4 linked regions of the Homo sapiens genome follow. The main gene of each other region encodes a partner of the protein of the gene in region 2 in a complex. Each region holds a gene or a part of one and is shown on either strand. Other genes may lie near its edges. A codon is read from its position in the direction of its gene.

Evidence for each region.
Region 1: the proteins of TAF1 (region 2) and TAF7 are in contact, whole or in part, in a crystal structure (PDB 4RGW), measured with the Homo sapiens proteins. Residues at the interface, in NP_004597.3 of Homo sapiens: Gln591, Ser593, Pro602, Phe603, His617, Arg618, Pro619, Pro620, Leu621, Lys623, Tyr624, Gly633, Pro634, His635, Ser636, Val637, Gln638, Pro639, Leu641, Lys642, Arg651, Arg655, Phe664, Phe665, Met666, Asp671, Leu672, Thr673, Gly674, Lys675; in NP_005633.2 of Homo sapiens: Glu11 (codon at 2,025), Leu12 (codon at 2,022), Glu13 (codon at 2,019), Ser14 (codon at 2,016), Gln15 (codon at 2,013), Phe16 (codon at 2,010), Ile17 (codon at 2,007), Leu18 (codon at 2,004), Arg19 (codon at 2,001), Leu20 (codon at 1,998), Pro22 (codon at 1,992), Ala25 (codon at 1,983), Val28 (codon at 1,974), Arg29 (codon at 1,971), Val32 (codon at 1,962), Gln33 (codon at 1,959), Ser34 (codon at 1,956), Gly35 (codon at 1,953), His36 (codon at 1,950), Val37 (codon at 1,947), Leu39 (codon at 1,941), Lys40 (codon at 1,938), Asp41 (codon at 1,935), Leu43 (codon at 1,929), Thr44 (codon at 1,926), Ile45 (codon at 1,923), Glu46 (codon at 1,920), Leu47 (codon at 1,917), Pro49 (codon at 1,911), Arg57 (codon at 1,887).
Region 3: TAF1 (region 2) and TAF3 share a complex: the UniProt entries of both Homo sapiens proteins name them as parts of the TFIID basal transcription factor complex.
Region 4: the proteins of TAF1 (region 2) and ASF1A are in contact, whole or in part, in a crystal structure (PDB 3AAD), measured with the Homo sapiens proteins. Residues at the interface, in NP_004597.3 of Homo sapiens: Asp1417, Lys1420, Ile1421, Thr1423, Thr1459, Tyr1460, Asn1461, Gly1462, Lys1464, Trp1527, Asn1534, Lys1536, Phe1537, Val1538, Pro1539, Gln1589, Tyr1590; in NP_054753.1 of Homo sapiens: Val6, Asn7, Asn8, Val9, Val10, Arg69 (codon at 3,302), Val92, Val109, Tyr111, Tyr112, Asn114, Thr120, Glu121, Arg123, Glu124, Leu140, Ser142, Pro144, Val146, Arg148.

Annotation. Positions count from the first base shown.
Region 1 is NC_000005.10:141,317,990-141,325,314, forward strand, and holds TAF7 (transcription initiation factor TFIID subunit 7), read right to left. Parts: upstream 2,796-7,325; 5' UTR 2,056-2,795; coding exon 1,006-2,055; 3' UTR 501-1,005; downstream 1-500. UniProt on the Homo sapiens protein: The TFIID basal transcription factor complex plays a major role in the initiation of RNA polymerase II (Pol II)-dependent transcription.
Region 2 is NC_000023.11:71,362,192-71,369,356, reverse strand, and holds the start of TAF1 (transcription initiation factor TFIID subunit 1), read right to left. Parts: upstream 3,001-7,165; 5' UTR 2,983-3,000; coding exon 2,863-2,982; intron 2,808-2,862; exon of another isoform or gene 1,859-2,807; coding exon 1,744-1,858; intron 1,304-1,743; coding exon 1,187-1,303; intron 1-1,186. UniProt on the Homo sapiens protein: The TFIID basal transcription factor complex plays a major role in the initiation of RNA polymerase II (Pol II)-dependent transcription.
Region 3 is NC_000010.11:7,961,482-7,968,504, forward strand, and holds part of TAF3 (transcription initiation factor TFIID subunit 3), read left to right. Parts: intron 1-2,438; coding exon 2,439-4,261; intron 4,262-7,023. UniProt on the Homo sapiens protein: The TFIID basal transcription factor complex plays a major role in the initiation of RNA polymerase II (Pol II)-dependent transcription.
Region 4 is NC_000006.12:118,897,140-118,904,162, reverse strand, and holds part of ASF1A (histone chaperone ASF1A), read right to left. Parts: intron 3,398-7,023; coding exon 3,282-3,397; intron 1-3,281. UniProt on the Homo sapiens protein: Histone chaperone that facilitates histone deposition and histone exchange and removal during nucleosome assembly and disassembly.

The sequences.
Region 1 (7,325 bases), on a different chromosome or scaffold from region 2:
TTAGAGCATGAGAAATTTGGTACCAACTTCCTTTATGAGCAATTTTGATGAAATGACATTGATAAATGACCTCAGTTCTCAGAATATTAATTATAGGAACTCAACTGAAGAAAATTAGAAATATTAATCCAAACCAATGGAATGGTTCATTGGACTGCACTTGATAACCACTGCTTTGTTTCCAACATTTTATGCAGGTAGATTTAGCGCTTTTTAAAAAAGGCACAAAGGCCTTCATCTACAAAAATTAGGGTACTTTAAGAAAGCTCTGTATCTAATGTTTCCCAGCTTTCAAGTAGATCAAATAGAATTGGAATCTTAATATGATGCAAACATGACCATTCCCAATTTCTTTACCCCTGCTGTGTTCCTTTTTTTCATAAACCCTACTGCCTCTACCTGCAGAACGGGATCAAATTGCTTAGTCACTAAACTCCACCATAAAACCACCTCACAAGAGGACCTGACTCCCACCAACCATGAAAGAACAAGATACACTATAAAGTGAAAAACAGATGCTTTTATTTATTGTATTGGAAACAACTTAATAATTTGCATCTCTACATATAGAAAGCTGCTTTGAATAACTGGGAAAACAATTATTGCATAGGAAAACATATGCAAACTAGCATCATTGTCTCTAGACTAGGTTCTTCTTATTGATCTCACGTCATCACAAAGCAGCAACAGCAGCTTCTAGAAAATGGAGAAACAGTAAAGTCCTGCAATGAAGCTATAATTAAGGTTGAACCATACATTCCGCTAATCCTGCAACTTTCCTACAATCATTTTTCTGCCTATACAATCCTGCTTCTTATAGGATGAACACCTAGCAAAACAATATAAATTTGCTGAAAAACAAAATTACAAACAAATGAAAGAACTTAACAGAACACACAGCATTAAAAGGACTAGGAAGAGCAAGGTCTTAATACCCAGTACAATAAAGCCAAGAATTTTCTAATGCTGACCAGTCTGAAGACTGAAATTAAATATCAGTTCTTTTTACTTCTCTAGGAGTGATTCTAGCTCCTCTTGCAAAGAGCTGAGTTGCTCCTTTTCTCGGTCTTCCTTTTGTTTGAGCTCATCCAGTACAGCCTGAAATCTGTTCTTGAGAGCCAGATTTTCCACTTTCATGATGAGATCCTCTTGTCGTTTTGCCCTGTCCTGGGTCTCTTGGAGCTTGCCTTTCATGTTGTCAATCTGCTTCTGAATTCCCATAACCAGCTGATTGGTTCCTTCATTTTCCTGGTGCTGTTCATCTGATTCATTTAGCTTGTCCTGTAGCTGTCTCTCCAGATCTTCCTCCGTGTCAATGATGTTTATATCTTCTTCATCTTGATGCTGGGTCTCATCTTCATCCTCACTGCTGCTGCTGAGGTCATTGAATATCTCCCGAAGCTCATCATGTTCTAATGAGTCATGGCCCTGCCTGTGACCAGACATTCCTGGAGAAGAGATATCCAGGCCTTGATTTTCTGCCTCCTTTGTTTCATCTTCGGCAATTATTTCCCACCGAGTACTAACAGCTTCAGCATCTGTACTCAGCAATCGTTTCACTTCTTTTTCAACATCTGGAGATTCAATATATTTCTTCTTTGCTGTCTTCCGGAACCTTCTCTTCCTGACATTCTTTAGAGGCAGAGTAATTCCGTGGTTCCAGATAAACTTTTTCTCTTTGTCCTTATCCTTTTTCTTGCTTGCTTTAGGATCAGTGCTAGCAACTGGCTCCTCCACAGGAGGATAGAGATCACCATCAACTGTGGATACAAGCATCTGACAGATATCAGCTGTCTTGTAAAAAGTTTTTTTATCAATGGTTTTCAAGCTTTCCATAACACAGGGCAGGTCTACTAATTTTGAGGCCAATGGAACACGGTCCACTCTGACGATTCCATGACGCCCATCAGGATGTAACTCAATTGTCAGTCTGTCCTTGAGGTTGACATGACCAGACTGTACTGCCCTTCTCACAGTAGAGGCATATTCTGGAGGCAGACGTAAGATAAACTGGCTCTCCAGTTCGTGAGGAGCATCATCTTTGCTTTTACTCATCTTTATTTCCTTGTGATTCACTTCTCCAATAAATGCTGGTTACACTAAAAAGTTCCAGCTACTGCAATAGTTTAAAACACCAGTTTGCTATGAATTGAAATCTTTTAATTACAAGAAGTTCTCTGTAGATCAGCAGCTAAGCGTCTATTTTGCCTTAGTTTTTATTTAAGCTCCAAGTCTTTTCTCTAAATATGCTGTGACCGAATACCAGTCGTTAACACAAAGGCTTATTCACAGACTTAAGTTCATTAAATCAGATGCAATGCCAAGTCCCAACCTCTAGGTGCCGCTGCCGGACAACGCGGAGAGAGCTAGCTAGCTAGCTAGGGAACAGGAAAGCAAATGGCGGCTCCCCCGGAACGGTTTTCGGCCCAGAAAGCCCAGCAGAGATACTTTCAACTCACAAACTCTCCCGGAACAAAGACACTCAAAAAATCAGGGCTCAGCGAGCTCTCTTCGCCTCGGGTACTTACAATCCAGTGACGATTATAAGTTCAGTTTCACCGGGCCGGAGCGAAGGGAAGAGGAGGCCGCAAGGAGCCAAGCGGGAGAGAGCCGAGCGTCTCCTTGTCGTTTCCTTAATTCTTCCTGCCGCTTGGCAGAGTGATCCACTACCGATTACTGATGAAAGGGCCCGGGATGGGCAGCGCGAAATCTTGCCGAGAGGCGCAGCTCGCATCACCAGACCCCGCACCTCGCCGGCCCTCCGTCCGGGTCGCCTACCCAGCAAAAACGGAAGTGCTACGTCGCGACGCGGGGCGGGAGGCGGCTGTGAGTGACAGCCCCTCCGGGCGGAAGGGCGGAGCCCCAGCTAGCGCAGGCGCAATAGCGCAATTACGCTGCCCAGCGTGAAACTCATCTTTTCGCGAGAACTTGTTTTTCCGGGATGGAAATGACAGTGTTTCGGAAGAGCTGTTGGTTTCAAACTATTTAGAGCTTGGAAGTTCCAAGAAAGACACAGATTCGTCCCCCGCTAAGCCAGCACTTTTACGGGATCGCTGTGGGGCCGGATGGCTTCTAGACTTCCGGGTGATTCCGGGAGATGGGGGACGCCTTGCAGTAAGCGTCTTTGCTTCTGGAAACATCTCGGATGTTCCCTAGAGTCTAGCCTATCTGGTGCCAATACAAGAATGTGTAGCTACTATACAATGGATTTCAAAGTACCCAAATCAATGGAGTGAGGAGGACATGCAGCTTACTATATAAGTCTCTCTCTATATATATGTTTGTTTGTTTGTTTTGGAGATGGAGTCTCAGGCTGTCACCCAGGCTAGAGTGCAGTGGCACAATATTGGCTGACTGCAACCTCCACCTCTGGGGTTCAAGCGATTCTCCTGCTTCAGCCTCTTAAGTAGTTGGGATTACAGGCACGTTCCACTACCCCACCTAAGTTTTGTATTTTTAGTAGAGAAGGGGTTTCACCATGTTGGCCAGGCTGGTCTCGAACTCCTGACCTGAGGTGATCTGCCTGTCTTGGCCTCCCAAAGTACTAGGATTATAGGTGTGAGCCAGCGCGCATGGCCCAAAGTCTGTATTTTTAAATATAATTCCCTGTAGGGGAATTGTGCCTCTGGTTTTACTTGTGTTCTATAATACTTCTGGGGAAACAAGGGTGATTCCTTTTTATGTGCTTGATTTAGATGTAAATGTAAACAGAGAAGGAAGTGTTCTTTTGGACAGAATTGTCTGATAGACTGAGCATCTGGTTAAAGTAGATATAATTGAAGTATTGTTTCCTGTCTCTCATGTACAAGTAATTTTAAATTACTTTGACATTTTTTTTAACTCCACCTCTACTATTTTGCTGTTTTCTGCTTGTCTTTTCTATCAATAGTCAGGTATTCATCAACACATATTTTTAGTATTTTAACATAACTGGGTAACAGTTGGTACTTATTTCTATTTATTTCCATTTATTTTTAAAATATCTGGGAGAGCATCAAGGCCATTAATATTTCATTTCTATCCTCTAAAATATTAACAATTGCCCCTAAATTTAAGAGAATTCTCTTAAGATGTAATTAACATTTCCAAAATTCACTTTATTCTTGTATGATTGAAAGCTCCATGATAGTGATCTTCTTCTATCCTGGTCATTGTGTCCCAGTGCCTAGTACCAGAATGTGGGAGATACACAAAAAATATTTGCTAATTGAATGAAAAAACTTATCTGTCTAGAAAGATCATAGTCTCAAATCCTGTAGTGATTTCTGAGAGAAAATACATTCTTTGTCATTTTAAAATGAGATAGAGCCACTTTACATACATTTCCTTTCTAGTCAAGGACAATTCTAATTGTTATGAGGTGGGGAGGTTTACTAATAGTGTGTGTGAATGTGGTTTAGCTAGAATGAGATACTGTTGTGGGAGGAAATTAAAATGACCTGACGTTAGTTTGGTTTTTAATGTTAATTTTAAAAGAGAAAGTATGCCCTTCCAGATAACGGTAAATTATTTCTCTTTGCTTATAATGTGTTGAAGAATGTTAGCTGACTTACTTGTAATTTCCAGAATGATCTATTTCCTCTTTTTCAAAGATGAAGTTTTTTCTGTTACAGGCTTGAGCCACCTCGCCTGGCTGTGTTTTGTTTAACCATATACAATGTGAGGTCATTATACATGAAAATAATCCAAATATTACTCAGCATCTTCCCTATGAGTTTTATGATGCTCAAATATTCTTATCATAGAAGGTAACTTGAGATAAATTGTATGCAATTTTTCATTTTCCAAAATTACTGTGTATTTTAGTTTCTAAACCTTTCTTTACATGGAATATTGCCAGACATAGTTAAAAGGATTAACTGAGGTTTTCTTAATGTATCTAGCTCCTTCAGTCCTGAAATACATTTTCTGCTTTTGAGTTTAACACATTTTCTATATGCTGTTTTAGGGGAGGAAATTATATTGACCCTAAATATTTTTTTAAATTGGATTTATCAGTAGACATTAAGATAATCTGCTGGGTGCAGTGGCTCATGCCTGTAATACCAGCACTTTGGGAGGCCAAGGCGGATGGATCATCTGAGGTCAGGAGTTCGAGACCAGCCTGGCCAACATGGTGAAACCCCATTTCTACTAAAAATACAAAAAAAGGGCCAGGCGCCGTAGCTTACGCCTGTAATCCCAGCACTTTGGGAGGCCGAGGCGGGTGGATCACGAGGTCAGGAGATTGAGACCATCCTGGCTAACACGGTGAAATCCCGTCTCTACTAAAAATACAAAAAATTAGCCGAGTGCGGTGGCAGGCACCTGTAGTCCCAGCTGCTCGGGAGGCTGAGGCAGGAGAATGGCGTGAACCCAGGAGGCAGAGTTTGCAGTGAGCCGAGATCGCGCCACTGCACTCCAGCCTGGGCAATAGAGGGGACTCCTTCTCAAAAATAAAACAAAAACAAAAACAAAAACAAATTAGCCAGGCTTGGCGGCGGGCACCTGTAATCCCAGCTACTCGGGAGACTGAGGGAGGAGAATTGCTTGAACCCGGGAAGCGAAGGTTGCAGTGAGCCAAGATTGCACCATTGCACTCCAGCCTGGGCAACACTGGAGCAAAATTCCATCTCAAAAAGAAAAAAAAAAAAAAAGATAATGTGATGTGGCAGTCCTCTGCCTATCACTAAGGCCTAAGGCCTCTGCCACATCACATTATCTTAATGTCTACTGATAAATCCCCAGTTTTTTTTTAAAAAAAAGTTCCATTAGACATTCAGAAAAACTCTGAATTGATGAATTACACTCCTGTGGTTGTTCCATGGAATATCTGTGATACCAGTGAACAAAAGATTTGGGGAGAGCAATAAATTCCCCAGTGTGGTAACAAGTCCTCCAAAGGCTTCCTGTCTGTGATTAAGGAGTGTGGCAATCAGGTTACTAATAATCGTGTATGTTTGAAAATTCCCTTTAATACACTTTCTAGTTCTTTAAAGGGCTCCAAAATATAAGCTGCCCTTTAATACACTTTTTAGTTCCTTAAAGGGCTGCTTATACTTTGGAGGTTAAATTATGGGTGATGGGAGAAATCCTGCTTATATTTAGGAGGTAGAAAATTATAGGGGTGAGGAAATAGCAAATACCACAGAAAAGCCAGCTTACATATTGCTATATCACCATATATTTTAAAGATAAAAAGGTTAACTAAAAATATTTAGCAGTTCTTTTATCTAGTAGGATGTTTTCTATAGGAAAACATTAAAATCTAATTTATGCTGGTTTAAACAGTAAGAAAATCTATGATCCCAAAATACAGGTAGTCTAGCACAGCTTTGTCCTATAGAAATATGATGTGGGCCACAGATGGTCAGCCACAGATGTGATTTTAGATTATCTAGTAGCCACATTCAAATAGCAAAAAGAAACAAGTGAAATTTCAATAATTTTAATCCAATATATCTAAGATATAATTGCAACATATTTTTACAATAATGTAAAGATATTAATAATACGTTTTACATTCTTGTTTTGTACTAAATCTTCAACACCTAGTGTGTGTTTTACACTTACAGCACATCTCAGTTTAGACTAGCTGCATTTCAAGTGCTCAGTGGCCACGTGTGGCTGGTTGTTACTCTAGTGGACAGTGCAGGTCTAGAAGTTTCACTGCCTCTAGGCCAGATACAATCATGGTGTAGCACAAATTGTTTTTTCTTCCTAATTTTGAAGAATGAGCACTTATTTATACTTTTTCTGTTGTTTCAGCTCTGCTTTCCTCTCCTTGTGGAATTCTAAAGGCTGTAGTCACAAGATACCAGCCAGCAGCAATAACTGGAGAACTTTCTTCATTGTCCGTGACAAGAGAGTTACTCTCCCCAAACAGTCTATCTTTCAATCCAACTGGACCAACTTAGGCCATGTTCCCATTCTTAGCTCAGTAATACTAGGGAAATACCCTAAGCCTGTGTTTCTGAAAATGGTTGGGGAGAGGTGAGGTGACATTTGGTAATGTCTGGAGACATTTATGGTTGTCACAACTGTGGGGGGTGGGTCCTACTGGTATCTAGTATATAGAGACCAGGGATACTGCTAAACATTTTACAAGGCACAGAACAGCTCCCCACCACAAAGAATTATATGGCTCAAAATAGTACCAGGGTTGAGAAGCCCTGCTTTAAGCTTATTATTTTAAGTCTATATTCCTAACTAAGCACTGTCAAGAGGATGAGATTATCATTATTAGATTAAATTTATCAGAACCTACTACAGCTCTGAATAGGTTCTGCTTCCCTAGGTACATTAAGGGCGAACACCTAAACTAAAAGGAAGTGTTACAAGAGGAA
Region 2 (7,165 bases):
ACCCTATACCAGAGAGGAAAAAAACATATTTGCAAGCAGGTATCAAGTTCATTGTTTTAGGCAGGGTGCGGTGGCTCACACCTGTAATCCTAACACTTATGGAGACCGAGGGGAGCAGGGTCACTTGAGGTAAGGAGTTCGAAACCAATCTGGCCAACATGGTGAAACCCCTTCTCTACTAAAAATACAAAAAAATTGGCCAGATGTGGCCGGGCGTGGTGGCTCACGCCTGTAATCCCAGCACTTTGGGAAGCCGAGGCAGGCGGATCACGAGGTCAGGAGATCGAGACCATCCTGGCTAACACGGTGAAACCCTGTCTCTACTAAAAATACAAAAAAATAGCCGGGCTTGGTGGCGGGCCCCTGTAGTCCCAGCTACTTGGGAGGCTCAGGCAGGAGAATTGCTTCAAACCGGGAGGTGGAGATTGCAGTGAGCCGAGATCGTGTCACCGCACTCCAACCTGGGCAAGAAAGTGAGACACTCCGTCTCGGAAAAAAAAAAAAAAACAGTTGTTTTATATTGGGTTTTTTTTTTTTTTTTTGAGACGGAGTGTCTCACTCTTGCTGCCCAGGCTGGAGTGCAGTGGCACGATCTCGGCTCACTGCAACCTCCACCTGCCGGTTTGAAGCAATTCTCCTGCCTCAGCCTCCCGAGTACCTGGGATTACAGTCATGCGCCACCACGCCTGGCTAATTTTTTATTTTTAGTAAACGGGATTTCTCCATATTGGTCAGGCTGTCTCAAGCTCCCGACCTCAGGTAATCTGGTGAGCCACCACGTCCTGCCTTAGTTCATTGCTTATGTATGACGTTGTATCCTTCTTGAACTATCCATTCCTTAAGGGCAAAAACTGAATTTGTTTCATAGTTTCCAACTTTGAAGTGTATCTCACAAACCCTGTAGGTATTCAAATACCAGGTGACAAGAAAGCTACTTGTCATTAACTAAGAATTCATGACTGAACAGTGTGAGGAATAACCACATGAATACGGTTAAGACTGGCCAGAACACAAAAAAAGATAGCAGCTACTTGGAACTGACCTGACAAAGGGAGTGGAGGAGCCAAAGCAAAGGCATAGAGAGCAGAAACAATGGCAGACAGCGGGTATAGAAACCAGAGCCCAAACTGGACTATACAGCAGGATAATGCACTGGAATGTTCAAGCCAATACACCAAAGAATCACCTGAGTGGCAAAGGGGCTGCAAGCTCCCCATCGTCTGCTGGTATCTTCGGCTTTCATCTTCTGCCACCTCATTGATGTCTGAATAGTCCACAGCATCTTCTGTACTCCTAACCCACCCTATGAAAAAAGCAGGGAGAATCGCAACAACAGTAAGCGACCCTCACTCCCTCAGATAATTCCCATTTAAAAGTACATGTACAGGCTGGATGCGGTGGCTCACGCCTGTAATCCCAGCACTTTGGAAGGCCAAGCCAGACGGATCACCTCAGGCCAGGAGTTCAAGACCAGTCTGACCAATATGATGAAACCCTGTCTCTACTAAAAATACAAAAATTAGCCGGGCGTGGTGGTGCGTGCCTGTAGTCCCAGCTACTCAGGAGGCTGAGACAGGAGAAATGCTTGAACCCGGGTGGCGGAGGCTGCAGTCAGCCCAGATCGCCCCACTGCACTCCAACCTCGGAGACAGAGCGAAACTCCGTCTTACACACACAAAAAAGTACATACATAGTAGGTGGCTAGCCTCCTCCCCCGCCTACTCCCCACAACCCAGACTTCACCTTCATCATTTACCAAGGCACCGTCAGTCCCGGTCAATTCTTCATTTGCCGTGAGTTCAGTGATCAGGCTGCCCAGCCCCAAAGCCCCCAAGCCTGCCAAGTGCTTCTTACATTCCTGAAAAAGGGACAGCACGAGTCGAAGATAACAACTAAACCTACGACTCCCACACCACAGGACTTATTTCCCTGGTCCACGACAAAGTCACAAATCCACATGAAAAATGACTGTGCAGTGTGCCAAAACAAGCAACACGTTCGAGAACTGTAATATACATCTACCAAACTCCGCATCGATCAGATCTTTATTAAAGCACCACAGCCAACTGCATCGCCCACACTTTAAAGTATACTACAAGAGAAGACGAATCAAATAACTACTGCCAAGACTGAATGAATGGAACGGTCGTTCTCGGAACGAGGGCCGAGGCAGGGGGATCAGTGGGATTGGAGGCGTCGAGGCGGGGCTCGTTCGGTCCCTGTTTCGCATGCGCCTGCGGCACAGGAGGGGCCACAGCGGCCGACAGCTTCACTCCTCAAGAAAACGGGCCTAAGTGAAGGCAGGGTAGTTTCACTAGGGCGCAGGACACTATTTCACGAAAGTCAGTGAAGACGCTGGGAGAGCCACCTAAAAGGCGCACTGTGACCAGGAGGCCCGCTCGGGTGCTAGGAACACCCCATTGTCCTAAGCCTGAGGCCGGAACCAAACGAGCGGGAGGCAGGTCCTGTCCAGTCCTCTGGCTCTATAGAGCCATCTCAGGGCAGCGATGTCAGAGGGGCAGGCAGTGTCAAGAATCTCCAAGCAGGTTACGGGTGGGAAGCCATCTCAGTAGGCGAAACCAGCATGTGTCCTACTGTCTGGTCGGCAGAGCGCTAGCTCCAAAGCCACTATTCCCTGCGCCCCTGGCCCCGGGCTCGCCTCGCGCTCTCTTCTGCCCACTCTCCCCCAGAACGATCACTCCCACGCCACGTTGCTCCCGCACCCATGAGGACGGGATCCTCCTCCCCGGCGTTAGCTGCGCCCTGTTCTCGCTGCCTGAGCACCCTCTCCTTTCCTCCCCGCACCTCCTTCCTCTGCTTAGCCCCACCCCCCGAGCCCTACCCCCACGCCCACCCCCTCACATCATCCAAGACGCTTTCCCCCTCCAGCTGCCCGGCTCCATTGATGTTGCCGAAAAGGAAACCCGCTAAAGAAAATGGGCCGCCTCCAGCGGAATCTTCGTCGCTGTCCGTGTCTGACATGATGGCGGCAGCAGTGATGGTAGCTGCTGTCCGCAGCAGCAAATCGCAGCCGGGTCCCATAGACCGGAAATAAAACAACAGTCGCCCAGAAGTGACTTACTGAGCTCCCTTACCCTACCAGCCTCTACCGGAAGCTCAAAACAGAGGGGAAAGGGAGGGGGAAGTGGGGAGAGGGGAGGGGGAAGGGGGGGAAAACCCGGAAAGACCGGCTATCCTAAGAGAAAGAAGTAACTACTTTACTAACGGCTTTTGATTCGACGCTACGGGATCAGGAGGATGGATATGTGGAAAGCGGTTGGTCAAAGAAAATATTCAGTCCCGCCCGCTCCCACTGCTCCGCGCGCGAGCTTTCTCACGGCACCGAATTAGAGCAGTGGCTCTTCCTCCAATCAGAAGGAGCTGCTCGAGTCACGTGGCTTACGCGCAGGCAACCTCGGGTTCCTGTACCACAATACCCGGAAGTAAGGGTAAGAGCCGGTCTTTGTGCTGCGTGCAATTTCACCGGTCCGTCCCAAGGAGAGACTTGACGTAAATTATACAGGCATTCCCGAGCTATGCAGGTTACTTGTTTTGAGTTGACATTTTTCCCTAGAAATTGATTTTTTGACCGGACGCGGTGGCTTACGCCTGTAATTCCAGCACTTTGAGAGGCCGAGGTGGGAGGATCGCTTGAGCCCACGAGTATGAGGCCAGCCTGGACAAGAAAGCGAGACTCCATCCATACACAAAATCAAAAAAATTAGCCAGATGTGGTGGCCAGTGCCTGTAGTCCCAGCTGTTGGGGGGTCTGAGGTGGGAGCCAGGAGTTGGAGTCTGCAGTGACCTGTGATCGGGCCACTGCACTCCAGCCCGCCTCAAAAAAAATACTTGTTCCCCCAACGTTTTATTTCGGAAAATGTGAAAGTTTAGTAAAATGAACAGCTGACCCCTCACCTAGACTCACAATGGTTAACATTTTGCTAGGATTTTTGTTTTTCTAAACCATTTATGGGCATCTTGTTCTTCACTCCTAAAAATAAGCATCTTAACTATGGAACCAAAGTACCTTTATCACAACTTTAGGAAGTAAGTCAATATTATTTAAGGAAGAGTCCGCACTTAAATTTCCCCAGTTGTCCTAGTTGGAACATTTTACGGGGTTTCGTCATGTTGCACAGGCTGGTCTCAGACTCCTGGGCTCAAGCAATCTGCCCGTTTCAGCCTCCCAAAGTGCTGGGATTGCAGCCATGAGCCAACACCCCGGCTTTCACCTTGCTTTTTTCACATATTATGATAATATAGACTGAAATAATTTCTTTACCACATCATAGCACTCTTCCTCATTCTCCCTTTTTTCCAATACTAGGATCCATTCACGTTTCATGCATTGTATTTGGTCATCTTCCTTTAGTCCAGAATCACCTGCCTTCTTGTTTGTTTTTCATGACACTAAATATTTGGAAGAATCCAGGCAAGTTGTCTTGAAAACATTCCATGATCCGAATTTCTCTTGTTTCCTTTTTTTTTTTGAGACGTAGTCTCGCTCTGTTGCCCAGGGTGGAGTGCAGTGGTGCTATCTCGGCTCATTGCAAGCTCCACCTCCTGGGTTCACACCATTCTCCTGCTTCAGCCTCCCAAGTATCTGGGACTACAGGCGCCCGCCACCAAGCCCGGCTAATTTTTGTATTTTTGGTGGAGACGGGGTTTCACTGTGTTAGCCAGGATGGTCTTGATTTCCTGACCTCGTGATCCGCCCACCTCGGCCTCCCAAAATGCTGGGATTACAGGCGTGAGCCACCACACGCCCGGCCTTTTTTTTTTTTTCTTTTTTTGAGACGGAGTCTCTTGCTCTGTCTCCCAGGATAAAGTGCTGTGGTGCGATCTCGGCGCCACCACCCCTGGCTAATTTTTGTATGATTAGTAGAGCCGGGGTTTCACCATATTGGCCACACTGATCTCAAACTCCTGACCTCGTGATCCGCCCGCCTCAAGTGCTGGAAATTACAGGAGTGAGCCTCCGCGCCCGGCCCAGGTTAAATATTTTATCAGCCATCAGAAGGTACACTGTCAAATACAGTGTTGTCCTAGTATTGGTGATGCTAAATTTCATCACCTTGATAAAGTAGTCACCACCAGATTGCTCCATCACAAAGGTACAACCCTGTGTAATTACTAAGTAATCCACAGGTACTTAGAGATTGTGTGAATATTCTTTTTTTTTTTTCAGTCTTTTGGTACTGAGCCCATCCTTCTGCAGAATAAATTGTGAATATTCTTTTCCCCATTGACCTTGCACCCAATGTGGTTTTAGCATTCATTGATGTCCCTTGCCTAAATCAGTTATATTGGGAGAATGCGAAAGGATGATCTTTCTTTCTTTTTCTTATTTTTTTTTTGAGAAAGTCTCACTCTGTTGCCCAGGGTGGAGTGCACTGCCGACCTCCTTCTCCCGGGTTCAAGCGATTCTCCAGTCTCAGCCTCTTGAGTAGCTGGGACTATAGGAGCATACCACCACACCCGAATTTTTGTATTTTTAGTAGACACGGGGTTTCACCGTGTTAACCAGGCTGGTCTCAAACTCCTGACCTCAGGTGATCCACCCGCCTTGGCCTCCCAAAGTGCTGGGATTACAGGCGTGAGCCACCGCGCCCAGCTTGGAATGCTTTTTAATGTAGTTTATGATAGTTACGTAGCAGCGCGCACAGTGGCTCACGGCTGTAATCCCAGCACTTTGGGAGGCCGAGGCGGACAGATCACCTGAGGTCAGGAGTTTGAGACCAAGCTGGCCAACATGGTGAAACCGTATCTTTACTAAAAATACAAAAAAATTAGCCAACACGGTGGCGCACATCTGTAGCCCCAGCTACTTGGGAGGCTGAGGCTGGAGAATCGCTTGAACCCGGGAGGTGGAGGTTGCAGTGAGCCGAGATCGCGCTACTGTACTCCAGCCTGGGCAACAGAGCGAGACTCTGTCTCAAAAAAAAAAAAAAAAAAGTTATTTAGTACGATATTGTCTCTTGGATGCTTGTGCTTGAGGAAAAGCAGACTGAATAAAGGTAGAGGCTTGTAGGATGTGGAAGGAGACTTCAGGTCCTATAAATATAAAAGATAACTTTTTTTTTTTTGTAGAGACAGGGTCTCACTATTGTAGCCCAGGGTGGTCTTGAACTCCTGAGCCCAAGCAATCCTCCCGCCTTGGCCTCCCAAAGTGTTGGGATTACAGGTATGAGCCACCACACCTAACCTAAAGATACAATTCTTTTTTTTTTATCTCCCAGCCTGCTCCCAGCCGAAAGATACCATTCTTGATTCAAAACATGGTTTCATATATTCACATTGTTCGGTCCAAACAGTAAAATAAAAAGTTTTTAAAAAATAAAAATAGGCTGGGCACGGTGGCTCACTCCTGTAATCCCAGCACTTTGGGAGGTCCAGGCGGGCAGATCACCTGAAGTCAGGAGTTTGAGACCAGCCTAGCCAACATGGTGAAACCTCGTCTCTACTGAAAATACAAAAATTAGCCGGATGCGGTGGTGGGCGCCTGTAATCCCAGCGACTCGGGAGGCTGAGGCAAGAGAATCGCTTGAACCCAAGAGATGGAGGTTGGCAGTGAACTGAGATCGCACCACCACACTCCAGCCTGGGCAACAGAGCGAGACTCTGCCTCAAAAAAAGTTATTTAGTACAACATATTGTCTCTTGGATGCTTGTGCTTGAGAAAAAGCAGATTCAATGAGAGGTAGAGGCTTGTAGGATGTGGAAGGAGACTTCAGGTCCTATAAATATAAAAGATAACATAATATTCTTTTTTTTTTTTGGTAGAGACAGGGTCTCATTATGTAGCCCAGGGTGGGCTCCTGAGCTCAAGCAGTCCTCCCGCCTTGGCCTCCCAAAGTGTTGGGATTACAGGCATGAGCCACCACACCTAACCTAAAGATACCATTCTTGATTCAAAACATGGTTTTATATATTCACACTGTTCTGTCCAGAAAGTAAAATAAAAATTTTTTAAAAAATAAAAATAGGCTGGGCACGATGGCTCACTTCTGTAATCCCAGCACTTTGGGAGGCCCAGGTGGGCAGATCACCTGAAGTCAGGAGTTGGGACCAGCCTGGCCAACATGGTGAAACCCCATCTCTACTAAAAATAGAAAAATTAGCTGGATGCGGTGGCGGGCGCCTGTAATCCCAGCGACTCGGGAGG
Region 3 (7,023 bases), on a different chromosome or scaffold from region 2:
AACTCTTGCTCCCTTGATCTCTTTGACATCTGACCCTCCATGTATTTCTTTAGTTCTTCTTCCTTTTCTTTTTATATATAGGTATTCCTCAAAATACCTGAACCTGTTTCCTCTTGTTTCTTCCTTGTTCATATCATCCATCATGGTGACTTTAGTTATCTCAACAACACTCTTTCTCTCATGCACTCTGTCCTGTTTTCTGATCATCTGTATTATATTTCAGCTGCCGAGTAGGCATTGCAGACTAAATGTTCATCAAACTCTGTGTCTAGGGATTGAGCTAATAATCATTGTCCTTTTCTATTTCCTTATTTCCTGTTTCTGTTCATCACTACATTTATCACTCACCAAGGCTCAAAGCTTTCTTTCCCTTTTTTTTTTCTTTAAAAATAGGGTCTCGCTCTGTCGCCCAGGCTGGAGTGCAGTGGCGCAATCATGGCTCATTGCAGCCTCAACCTTCTGGGCTCAGGTGACCCTTGCACCTCAGTCTCCCAGGTAGCTGGGACTACAGGCACGCACCACAACACCCAGCTAATTTTTGTATTTTTTAGTAAAGATGGGGTCTCACTATGTTGCCCAGGCTGGTTTCAAACTCCTGGGCTCAGGTAATCCTACTCCCTCGGCCTCCCAAGATGTTGGCATTACAGGCATGAGCCACCATGCCTGACCAGGCTCAAAGCTTTGAAATTGTGTTTGAGTCCTTGCTCAAGTCTTATACCCTAATCATTTATCAGATTCTATCCATTCTATCCTCAGAATATCCTTCACCTCTGCTGCTTCCTGATCATTTCCACTGTTCTAGCTCTGACCCTTACTGCCTCTCACATCACTTCAGTAATCCATGTTATTGCTCTCCTTCAGTACCCATCACCTCCCACCCTCATCCATCCTGCGTGTTCCTGCCAGTGTGACTTTTCCCAACACATACCCCACACGTTTTTCTCTGTTGTCTAAAATCCTTCTAGGTCCAAACTACCAGTAGAATAAAGATTATGTTTCTTTTTCTGGAATTCAAAAGTCCTAGGATCTGGATGCAATTTTACTAAACCTGCTTCCTACTGCTCCCCACCTTGCACTCTACTTTCCAGACAAATAATTTTCTGTTTCTCTTACACTCCCCGTGTTTCACCTTCATCTATTTGTCATCTGACCCTTTGTCCTGGACTTCACCACTTCCAGTCTCCAACTATCCCAAACGCTGCATAATTAATCAAGCCTCCTCCGCATGATTGACCTCGCTGAGATCTGTCTCTCCTTTGACCTGCTGTAGCACTTTATCTGTCTGTGGCACTGATCACTTTCTGTGGGCTAGACATATCTGTTATTGCTGCACTAAACTGTGAGCTCTTTTAGTTGTGATTTATTTCTGATTTATTTCAGTGGCTCTTTTAGACTTTATCATTGTACATTATATGCTTAGTTAAAATGTGTTGGGAGAAATAATCTGATCTTAGAAAAACTCAGCCAAGTAGGCAGGGCAAGTAACATCGGCTCCTTTTTGAAAGATTAGGAAACAGGCTCAGAGAGGTTGAGAGAGTCCCTAAGGCTGGTTGCTCTCTAGTGCCGTAACTCTAGCCGAAAAACCATTTGTCAAGTGCCTAAACCAAGTGTATTTCATTGCACCATACTCCCTCTCCAAGTGGCTCACATCAAGCAAGCAAAATAGAAGACATAAGTAGTATATGAATTTGTCATAAAAGTCCTAAAAATACCTGTCATTCCTGATAATAATAATAATCCATACTAAGTCCTATAATAATCCATCTCTTGATTTTTTAGAGGGTGTGTGGGTGCGCACGTGTGCTTCTATGTGCATGAGAGAGAGATAGAGAAAGATGGCATTTACTGGTTAGGAAAATAATTAATTCAGGAAACAACAGAAGGCCAACTGGAAATACCGAGCAATTTCCAGATCCTGAGGTTAGGGCCAGACCATGTGAAAGGACAATGATCAATTTGTACATCTGCTGTTACTGACTGCCACTCTTTTAAGAATGATGGCACACATGTTTGGAAGATCCTTGAAAACTAACTTACTTTTTAAACACTGTCAATAATTTCCTTTTTTTTTTAGAAATCATGTTTGAACGCCGCATGTTCTCACTCATAAGTGGGAGTTGAACAGTGAGAACACATGGACACAGAGGGAGGGGAACATCACACATCGGCACCTGTTGGGAGGTCGGGGGCTGGGGGAGGGATAGCGTTAGGAGAAATACCTAATGTAAATGATGAGTTGATGGGTGCAGCAAATTAACAGGGCACATGTATACCTGTGTAACAAACCTGCATGTTGTGCCCATGTACCCTAGAACTTAAAGTATAATAATAAAAAAGAAAGAAAAAAGAAATCATATTTGAAGCATTGTTTTTATTTCTTAGGTTTTGTTACATTCCAATAATATTTATTTTTTTCTTCCTTTTTCTTCCTTTACCAGAAGAAGAAGAAGAGCAGGTGCCCACTGATGGAGGCACATCAGCAGAAGCCATGCAGGTTCCCTTGGAAGAAGATGATGAATTGGAGGAGGAAGAAATTATTAATGATGAGAATTTCCTGGGCAAGAGACCACTGGATAGTCCTGAAGCTGAAGAACTGCCAGCCATGAAGCGGCCTCGGCTATTAAGCACTAAAGGGGACACGCTAGATGTTGTGTTATTGGAAGCTCGAGAGCCACTCAGCTCAATAAATACTCAAAAGATCCCACCAATGCTTTCTCCAGTCCATGTACAGGACAGTACAGACTTGGCACCTCCCTCACCCGAGCCGCCAATGTTGGCTCCAGTTGCAAAATCACAAATGCCAACTGCAAAACCATTAGAAACAAAGTCATTTACACCTAAAACAAAGACTAAAACTAGCTCTCCAGGACAGAAGACTAAATCACCTAAAACCGCCCAGTCACCAGCAATGGTCGGAAGTCCTATTCGATCACCAAAAACTGTATCCAAAGAAAAGAAATCACCTGGACGTTCCAAGAGCCCCAAGAGTCCCAAGAGCCCCAAGGTCACGACTCACATTCCCCAAACACCTGTGAGACCTGAAACGCCCAACAGGACTCCTTCAGCTACACTCAGTGAAAAAATCAGTAAAGAGACTATCCAGGTAAAACAAATACAGACACCCCCTGATGCTGGGAAACTGAACAGTGAGAATCAGCCGAAAAAGGCTGTGGTAGCAGATAAAACGATTGAGGCCTCTATCGATGCTGTGATTGCACGAGCCTGTGCTGAGCGAGAGCCAGATCCTTTCGAATTTTCTTCTGGATCGGAATCTGAAGGAGACATTTTTACTAGCCCTAAGAGAATTTCAGGCCCGGAGTGTACTACTCCCAAAGCTTCCACTTCCGCGAACAATTTCACAAAGTCAGGATCCACTCCTCTGCCTCTTTCCGGTGGAACCTCAAGTTCCGATAACTCATGGACAATGGATGCCTCCATTGATGAGGTTGTACGTAAAGCAAAACTGGGAACACCTTCAAATATGCCCCCCAACTTTCCTTATATCTCTTCTCCGTCAGTGTCTCCTCCCACTCCCGAACCTCTCCACAAGGTGTATGAGGAGAAAACCAAGCTGCCTTCCTCCGTGGAGGTAAAGAAGAAGTTGAAAAAGGAACTAAAGACTAAAATGAAAAAGAAAGAAAAGCAGAGAGATAGGGAGAGGGAAAAAGACAAGAACAAGGACAAAAGTAAGGAGAAGGATAAAGTGAAAGAGAAAGAGAAAGACAAGGAAACTGGCAGGGAAACAAAGTATCCCTGGAAGGAATTTCTTAAAGAGGAAGAGGCAGATCCCTACAAGTTTAAAATCAAAGAATTTGAAGATGTTGATCCCAAAGTGAAATTGAAAGATGGACTTGTGAGGAAGGAGAAAGAGAAGCATAAAGATAAGAAGAAAGATAGAGAGAAAGGCAAGAAAGATAAAGATAAGAGAGAGAAAGAAAAAGTGAAAGATAAAGGCAGAGAAGATAAGATGAAAGCCCCAGCACCCCCACTGGTGTTGCCCCCAAAAGAGTTGGCCCTGCCCTTGTTCAGCCCTGCCACAGCCTCCAGGGTCCCAGCCATGCTGCCATCTTTGTTGCCAGTGCTTCCGGAAAAACTGTTTGAGGAGAAAGAGAAGGTGAAGGAGAAAGAAAAGAAAAAGGACAAAAAGGAGAAGAAGAAAAAGAAGGAAAAAGAGAAGGAGAAGAAGGAGAAGGAAAGAGAGAAAGAGAAGAGAGAGCGAGAGAAGAGAGAAAAAGAGAAGGAGAAACACAAGCATGAAAAAGTAAGCAGTTTCTCATTTTTGGCCCTATCTGAACAGAGTCCTAGTGAGAAACACAGGTAAACAAAGCCCACAATTATATCTGTATTCTGGGTGTAAATCACCCATCACTTAAGTGGAAATATGTTTATAATGAGGTTACAAAATTTGATTTTAATTCTAAAACCCATAAACCTGTAATCAAGCCCTCAACACACTAGCAGATGTTAAAAATTCATAGCCTAAGAGGCATCTAATCACAGACTATAAACTCTCTATTAGCTATAGTGATCTCTGGCAGCTTAAAAAAAACAAATCTGGGTTCTTAAATTGTGAATAATATTTATGTGAATTATCAAGTGTACTGCATTATATTTTGCACCCATATATTGAGAAAGGCAGCATCCATGTTTCTAAAAGCATGCAAAACCACGGCACTATTTTAAGAGGACAGCAAGGCCCGTGGAAGGACCACTGCCTTGGTTTTCTTTTTGGTGCGCCATTTTGGCATGTGTTTAGGATTATGCCTGTCTACAGAACTTTCCGTAGCATCTTTTATTCCTTCCGTTTTCTGCTTTAATAAGATAAGGGCACATTTCTGAGTATCTAGGCTGATCTGGCAGCCTGGTGAGTGGGCAGAAAGTAATCCCACATGGCAGAAATGTTTGACCATCTCAGTAAGTCAGACTTCATTTCATAGCATACAGCCCGACAAACTGATAGAAACCCCGCAGTTTTGTAGGCATTGGGGCCTCAGTCCTCAGGCTGTGACCTCTGCTTACCCAGCTTTGCTTTTCAGTCTGTGGTTTCTTGGATTACAGCAGCCGGCTGGGTTATTTGAAAATTTCTCATAAACTTTCCGAAAAAGTATCTCTTCATAGTGCCACCCCAGAGCTCCTGATGATCCTTTCCCTGCCCTCTAAAAGTTATCTTCTTTGAGCTTGGCCACAAAATAATACCCAGTAGTTTTGTTCATATGATAAAATTTGATGTATTTGACCTGCAGCAGATATATTACCAATAAATTCGGAGTATTTTTAACTTCAAACTTACCTAGAAAACTGAGTGTATTTGACAGCAGTAATGGCAACTCCCATTTTTCGCCTACCTTGATTTGTTCTTTGTTCTCTTTGGCTATCCTAAAATATAAAAAAGTGAAATGGGAATTCTGATATCAATAACTGAACATTGACAAGTTAACAAGACACAGAAATCCAACTCTTATTTCCATTTAAAAAATCATTTTATTTATTATTATGCAATTTCTATATAGTAGTTGTCAGGTTTTAAAGCAGATCCATACACCTTGTTTTCTCCTCCTAACACACCTGTGACATAGGTCCAGCAGGTATTATCATCGATATTTATGGAAGAGAAACTGAGCCTGAGAGAGTGACTTGTCCAAGATCAGGATGACACAGCTAGCAAGAGCCAGGTCAGTTACACTGCAGAGAGACTTCACGTGGTGAGGGGTTTGTTGTTAGAGATACTGCCTGACAGCAGTTAGTCATTTATCCCTTGTGTACCTAGTAAGTTGGCAGCTGAGCCCTCAGTAAATCAAACAGGGGACTGTTCCTGTCACCACCATCTTCACTTTGGAAAGTCAGTGGAGTTGTTTCAACAGCCATTATGAATTTGAGTGAAGCCATCAGATTAGGTTTGTAACAGCAGTCCCATGCCTTTCTACAGCATCTACCTGACTTTAGGGAAGAAAAGTCCCCCAGACCACCTTGGTGGAAGGCAAAGGCTCAGTCCCTCGAAGCACAGAGTCCACCTGAGAGAAAGATACATGTTCTTGGATCAGTTTTGCTGGGCTATGGAGCAGGTACATGGCAAAAGATAAAAATGTAGAAAATTCAGCTATCTTATAAGACCTTTATAAATAATAAATAGTAATGTCTATAGAATTAGACCTGAGTTCAGATCCTGACTTTTGTAAAATGGGTAAGTCATTTATATAAGGATTAAATGAGAACATACAAGGTGTGCTTAGTACCGTATCTGACGCATAAATGTCAGTAGATGGAGAGAGTGTTCCATTCTGAATCAAACTATAAAATGTAGGAACCTGGAGATTGCTGCTCCATTGGACCATATCAGCTAGCCTGTGTTAATATGGGCAGGTCAGCTATTAATAGGTTTTAAAAATTATTCTACTTCCTTGGCATTCTTTGGAATATTAGCCCTTGATACAAATAGGAAAGGATAAAGGTTAGGACAACCCAGGGAAATGCCATTGATAAGGAGTAGAAATTGGGATAGTAACATAAATGTTAAGACTTCCCTTTCTTCAACCCCGTTTAAATCCCCCAAGCACCACAGCATATGAGTAAACAAAAATACACCTGAAATGCGGTTCCATATGGTCCGAGAATTTTCCTACAAATCTACAGAAGTAAGGCACCAAAGGTTAAACTAAAGTGAGACATATCTGCTCACTTTATGTGAGCAGCTTTATGTAAGGCACCAAAGGTTAAACTAAAGTGAGACAAGCTGCCCCAAGAAAATGTTTTCAGCCAAAAGAATGAAGGCCACAATCTCATTTTCCCTTCTCATCATCCTGACCAAGAGCAACTCTCCCAGACACTGACCCAGATCGGCAAGCAAGAGCATTTGTTTAAATTTTTCAATCTCCACATTTATTTTACCTGCTTATAAAGCTGATACCAAGAACCAATAAAGATGTGATTAATTAAAACGGAATTTGCATGGTAGGTAGAAGGAGCTTTGGGCTTTGGAATCCAGCAGACCTGGAATAAGATCCAGGACAAGTTTTTTAGCTTCTT
Region 4 (7,023 bases), on a different chromosome or scaffold from region 2:
ACTGATCTCCCCAGCTCTAGCCTATCATTTGCACTGCTACCAGCATTAACACAGATATGTTCTTTCTCTTTGGTTTTAAAACCTCAGATTATTAAAACCCTCAGAAGAGTATTCCCTTTTCTAAGGGATAAAATCTCAGTTCTTTAACTTCATTGACAAGGCCCTTCTCAGTTTGTCTCCAGCCAATATCTCCATTCATACCTCCTTTAACTCCACCATTGTTCTAGAGATATGAATCACACAGGTTCTTTAAAACGTGGTGATAATCTTTTCACGCTCTGAGCACGGTGGCTCACGCCTGTAATCCTAGCACTTTGGGAGGCTAAGGTGGGTGGATCACTTGAGCCCAGGAATTTGAGATTATCCTGGGCCACATGGCGAAACCCCATCTCTACAAAAACAAATTTAAAAAAGAAATACTTCACCCCCTGTGCTTCTAACATACTGTTCCCTTGGCCTGAAAGGTCCTTCGCTCACATCCTGAAAAATTCATCTTTTAATCTTTTTTGGAGCTTACATCGAGTGTATTCTCAGTGACGCCCTTTCTAACTCAGAAGGTAGAATCAATAGATTCCTTTTTTATGTGCTGATATTTCTTGTCACAAATTATCTAAGAACGTATGCCCTGTGATCTAAACATGTTTATTTTTCAGTCTTCTCTTCTAGATGCTATGCTTTATCCAGGGCAGGAGTCCCATCCAGTTCATCTTTATAATCTCGTGTGGCTCAGCTCTGAGCACTTAGTATTTTGGAATTCATTTGTAAATCAGTTCCTGCCCTGAAGGGGTTTATGATCTCTTGGCAAGACACCAGGATAGGGGACAGCCAGCCTTGTCCTGGAGAATATGCTGTTTGTCTTAGAGATTCTACACACCCCTGCACAGAGGGGTTAGATTACTTTCAGTGTACCCAAACGGATTCTAATATACCTGAAGTGGGTGGAGATGGGAAATATATAATAGTTCAGTACTGCTATGAGAACTCTTCCCCTTCCCTTCAGTAAATTGGTTCCCTTCAGTAAATTGGTTCTAGGCATGTTTCTGTTTTAAAATCTGTTGTAAATATAAAACATCTTTTAAAAAGCATTTTACAATTTGAAAAAGATTCAGTTTGAGCAAATTTAAGTAGAGAAGCTTACAGGCCTTTCAAATAATTTAGGATGCAGAAGTAATGAGCAGAGATCTTTGTTTTGACTCTAGCTGGCAATACTAGGCAGATGTCTGGACATCTTCCTGCTAGCCTTTGACTCACTCAGAAGAAAGACATGTTTAACTATTTAGAGAGGCAAAATCATGGCAGACCAAGAGATTACTATAGTAGTTTTAAAATACAAAACAAAAGCTGTAATTTAGTCTCTTTCTGTTGATAATGGTGAATTCTGTAAAACCTTTAGGCTGAATATACATTGTACCTCCTCTGTTCTTTTTGGCAACATGTACACTGACACCAAGGTAAAACTACGTGAAGATCACCAGCAGGAAATACTTTTGAATACATTTTTTTTGCTACAGCACTTTCAGCCAAAAGCTTAGGAGTATGCTTAATAACAAACACAAAAGATTTTCAAGGGTTTGTTTCAATAACAAGGCATTTATTTGTAAGTTCTTATAGTAGCCAAAAAAAAAAAAAAAAAAGTATTATCAGTACCTGTCAACCCAGGTTTCTTTTACTGTATCATGAATTATCAGTAAAGTATGGGTTCCTTAGGCCTGTGGGTCAGAGCAAGTCCTGCTTTTTTATATAACAATTTCAAGAAGTTAAGAGAATAAAAATGTAGTTCTAATTTTAGGAATAGGGCACTCTTTATGAGTGACTGATTATACTGTTTTATTCCCCATAACATTTTAATGAGATAGAATATTATCCACATTTTATAGAAGACTGGAATGACTAAGGGAGGAGGTTAGAGAGGTAAAGCCACACATGGCTAATACAGAGGTGTCGGGATTTGACCTATATCTATAACTGCAGTGCTTCCTTCTACAGAACAGGGCATTCTGTTACCCATGTCTTTTACATGGTTATGCACTCACACAACTTTGATTAACAGCACTTTTAATTCATATATTTGATTAGTATATTTGAGCTTTTCTTAGCTATTTCTTTAGATACAGTAAATTATTTGTTGCTTTTTAATCAAAAGTACTAAGGCTAGGAAACCAAGATTCTAAATTCTGTATTTAGGACAGGGGAGGGAAAGGTAGCAGCTCTAGAGATGGCATGTGTCTAAGTGATTCTTTGCCAGTTTCTGATGGGATTATTTGACCAATGGTATTCATTTAAATTGGTCCCATCTGTGAAGTGAGAAAACAGAGGTCAGGCATAGGAAGAGTTAGATTTTCTTTCTGGATTAAGTCTTTTCAGTGAGTTCCACTTAACTGATGGGACATTGCTGGGTTGAAATACTTGTAACAGAAATTAATAGTAGTTTTAAAAAACCTATGGCTAGTTACTCTTTGGTCTATTACAAACATCTCCCTTATAAATAAGCATGCATAATTGAGGAATAACTGAATGGTTCCATATAGCAATTTAACATGGATTAAAAGAAATAACACTTTTGAATATAGAAGACAATGTCTGAAGCCTTGGTATAGATCCAAATACTCTCAGTGGTATCTAAGAACAAAATTTTTATTACTAGAAATTCTCTTCACAAATACCTAGTGGGGTAGTAAATTTGCAAAAGTAGTCCTCTTATAAGATAATGTAGATTATAAGATGCTTTAGTAAACTCTGGAATGTCATTCCAATGACCCAAGACCACACATCTCTATCCACTAAACGTATCTGTTAACCTAGCTCAACTACTGATTATGCTGAAATAAAGTTGTTTTTGTTACATCACCATCAGTTCCAGTGGCTGAAACCATAAACTGAAGATGCATATTACTAACAATGCCAGTTAGTTTTAGATATTTTGAATCCATGTTTTGGGTTGCTAGACAGCCACCTTGGAAGTCTGATACTGAGGTGCTATTCACAGGAAGAGCCCCAAATTCACCACCCTGTGTGCCATGATACAGTATAAAATTTACTGTAGGTTGTTCATCTCTCTAAAGTAAACGTCACATTAACATCTCTCAGCATATAAAACCAGGAAGTAAGAGTTCCTCTGTGACACAGAGACTGCCTAAAACATGATGGAAACAGATTTAAAGTGAATGCAGCAGAAGCAGTTCTTTAACCCAAAAGGAAAGGGATAAGGGTTATAAGATAATAGATAATATAGTCTACTTCGAAACATATTTGGCATACACATTTACCAAGATTAATCTTACCTGAAATACAAACATATGCCTTCCTGCGGGAACAGGACCCACTAAAACAGAGTCTAAAACTTGATCGTATTCTTCACTTTCTGCAGAGCCCACATAGATAATTTTCCATTCCAAGTCTAGGGTTAAAAAACCAAAGCATTATTTCATATTCAGTAATTACATTACCAGATGACATCAAAGACCCTTTTAATGTCCACTTAGCCACTTACTGGCTTTAAAATTGGCTTCTCATAGCAATCCAGAAAGGCAGTGAAATGCTCCTTATAAAGTTCCTACCAGAGTTCACACTTTGATCAGAGTTTCTCAAAATACTCTTTTGTGAAACACTAGTTCCTGGACAGTGCCTCACAAACAAGATAACATAGCCAAACACTTGGGAAATGCTGTAAACCTTGTCTTGAGGATTCATAAAGCATGCTGGCACAGTAAGTTTTCTGAGATATCCTTCAGTAAAGAACACCAGTAACATTAATCCAGCACTTCCCAAATTTATTTGGCTATGGAATCCCCCTTTTTTTGTATATCATCTTTTAAGGCCCTTCTCAACACACTTTGGAAGGGCAGCCCTATACTACGCTGCAGAGATCCAAATAATCACAGAGCTCCAAAGTAGAAAAATTATTAGTAAAACCTCCCTCATGGCTCAGAAGTAAGTGGCTTCAGCTCATCAACTGTCAACGAACAATGGTAGGGTTTTTCCCTTACGGCACCCCCCTGTGTCATACATTCTTTAAATTGGGCAGAGGAAACCAAGATCTTTACACCACGTGATACAATAGAGTATACACAGTGGAGATAGGCAGGAGGAAAAGACATTCAGGTGCAATTCAAGGCGTTATATGTAATTCAATATAGCGGATTTTACTGAGCATGTTTTACAATGTGTTCTGTGAAGTGAACCCAGAGATGAGTAGAACTCTTTGGAGGAGTCTCCTGTTTAGCTGAGGAAGAAGATAACTTTGTAATACAAACCATCTCTGAGAGACCTCTTCATCTTCTTTGGGTATTTTGCACTGTGTGGCCTGCCTCTTGCATTCAACACACTGTTACACAAGCACTCCCAAAGGGTGAGTTTCTGGGTCACTCATGACAATCTAGTTAGTGCCACCATGTGTGGCCATTTTTGTGTAACTGTAGATATTTTTGTTCCCTAAATTGATAATAGAAATAGTAACGTACTGCTTATTTATATTGTATTGTAAACTACAATCAACTGAAAGCTCCTTTTTTATTTTCTCTTATTAAGTCAGCAATCATTTTCTGAGGACCTATTATGTCATGGCTCTGTCCTAGAACTAAACCATTTCTATTTCCAGCTTCCAGCACACTTCCAGATGCAGGGTGCTGCATCTGACATCTCCTGAGATCATCTGTTGATGGAGATAGAGAGGAAGTAGGCAATATAAGTATCTCGCCAGAGGGAACAGCAAATACAAAGGCCCAGGGGTAGGGCACACTTGGCAAGAAAAAGCAAGGAGGCTAGGGCTGGAGCAGAATGAAAGGAAGGAGGAAAGCACCAAACCCTATGATTGAGGATGAGGGGAACAGCCAGATCATGCGGTTTTGAAGGCCATCATAAGGACTCTGGCTTTCACACTGCGTGGCATGGGAAGCCATCGAAGGGTTTTGAGCAGAGCAGTAACAGGAGCCAACTTTCATTTTAAAAGGAATGCTTTGATTGCTGTGTTCAATATAGAGTGTAAGAGGACAAGGGAAGAAACAATATTTCAATAATTGAGGCAAGAAATTATGGTGGCATGGACCTCGTGTGGCCATGGGGCTGTGCAACAGTTATATTCTGGATAAAATCCTGAAGATGAAAGCAGCAGGAGCCACTTTTGCAGGGAGGTGATGTGGGGTAGGGGAGCAATCAGGAGTTCATTTTAGACATATTTGAGATGTCTGCTTCTAAGCAGAGATACTGAATAGGCAGGATAAAAATTTGGAACCTGTCAATGATATGTAAAGCCATAAAAATACATGGGCTTGCTCTAGGGAGTGAGATTTGAGCCCTCCAAAGATAAGAGGACAAATTAAGTTACAAAACAAGTGGCAAATGAGGTAGGTGACCCAAAAGCCAAGTGAAGAAACTGTTTTAAGAAAGTGATGTGAAAGGTACTAAACTAGCCAAGTGAGGATAAGACTAAGAATTATCACATAGAGTGGCTGGGCGCAGTGGCTCACGCCTGTAATCCCAGCATTGTGGGAGGCTAAGGTGGCTGGATGGCTTGAGGTCAGGAGTTCGAGACCAGCCTGGCAAACATGGTGAAACCCCATCTCTACTAAAAGTACAAAAATTAGGGGTGGCACATGCCTGTGGTCCCAGCTACTCGGGAGGCTGAGGCACAAGAATCGCCTGAACCCTGGAGGCGGAGGTTGCAGTGAGCCGAGATCGCGCCACTGCACTCCAGCCTGGGCAATGGAACGAGATTGTCTCCAAAAAAAAAAAAAAAAAATTATTACATAAAGGTTTTCATGAATTTTAATTTCATATATAATTGTATCACTACATATAATGCCCTTGATCCTAAGTGGTATAAATTCGCATTTGTGGACTGGCATAGGAACATAGCCATAATTTATAAACCTATTTTAGAAAATACCTACTATATACTGGGCATTAGTTCTACTTCATACCTATTGTTTAAACCTCAACAGCTTCATCATGTAGATCAAATTATCCCCATTATGCAAATAACTTGAGACTCTGAGAGGTTAAGTAATCTACACAAATTCATAATTTGTACATCAAAGAATCAGAATCCAAGCTATGCCTCTGTAACTACAAACCCCGGGCTTCTTCTGAAAACCTAACTGGGAAGATAAATTCTTTCTAGCTCTGAAATTAGCAGTGGAATAAGGGAATTTATTTGCAGGGGAAGTGAGAGCAGAGGAGATGGAGAGAGAATCTAGCCTTAACAAGAACAGGCTGCAACTCAGGGAACACTTGTACATTGATTTTTATGTTTATGGGATGCTTGCTACAGTTGCTGAGTTTTACATGCTCAATACCCTTTTATACATTGGCATCAGTTTTTTTGTTGTTTTTTTTTTTAACCCAGCTTTCATTTAATTCCTCTGCCCCCTGTATTTGAGGGAGGAAGGGTAAGGTCAGATGTTTTACATAAGTTCTCAGGTGAAGAAATTTGTTCATTTATTTTAAAGTTAACTTTTATTTAATCACAGTAATCATGATTAAATGATTTACCCAGCCTGAAAGTATTTACATTTGTGGTGAAAGAGTGAGTGAATGAGGGAAGTCATCAAGAGAATTTTTAGCTAATTACACTACTTGGGAAGACCTGTGGTCTAGTGGAAAGTATGTAGGCTTTGGAATTAGAACAAGCTGAAGTTGGAAAGTATGAAGCACCATGCTCAATTCTGGTATATTATAAGTATTCAATTGACAGTAGCTGTAATTAAGATATATATATATATAAATTTAAGAATGGCAGGATGGTCAATCAAAACTTGTACAGTCTTGGTGACCATCAAGCACATCCAGCCAGGGTCTCAGGCTGTCTTAACCCTTGATATAAGCCCTATATTAGAAAGAACCAAATTATCTTAAGACCAAATATTCCTCAAGGCTTTTTCTGAAGCAAAGCTACAGGGCAGCTCTTAAAGGAAAGTGAACGTTTGGGGCTACTGATGAAAGTATGAAAAACGGTGGCCAAACTCTGCTTTGAGACTTGAGGCAAAATAACTTATTAAGAAAATTCTTTTCAAAATATTCTATAGT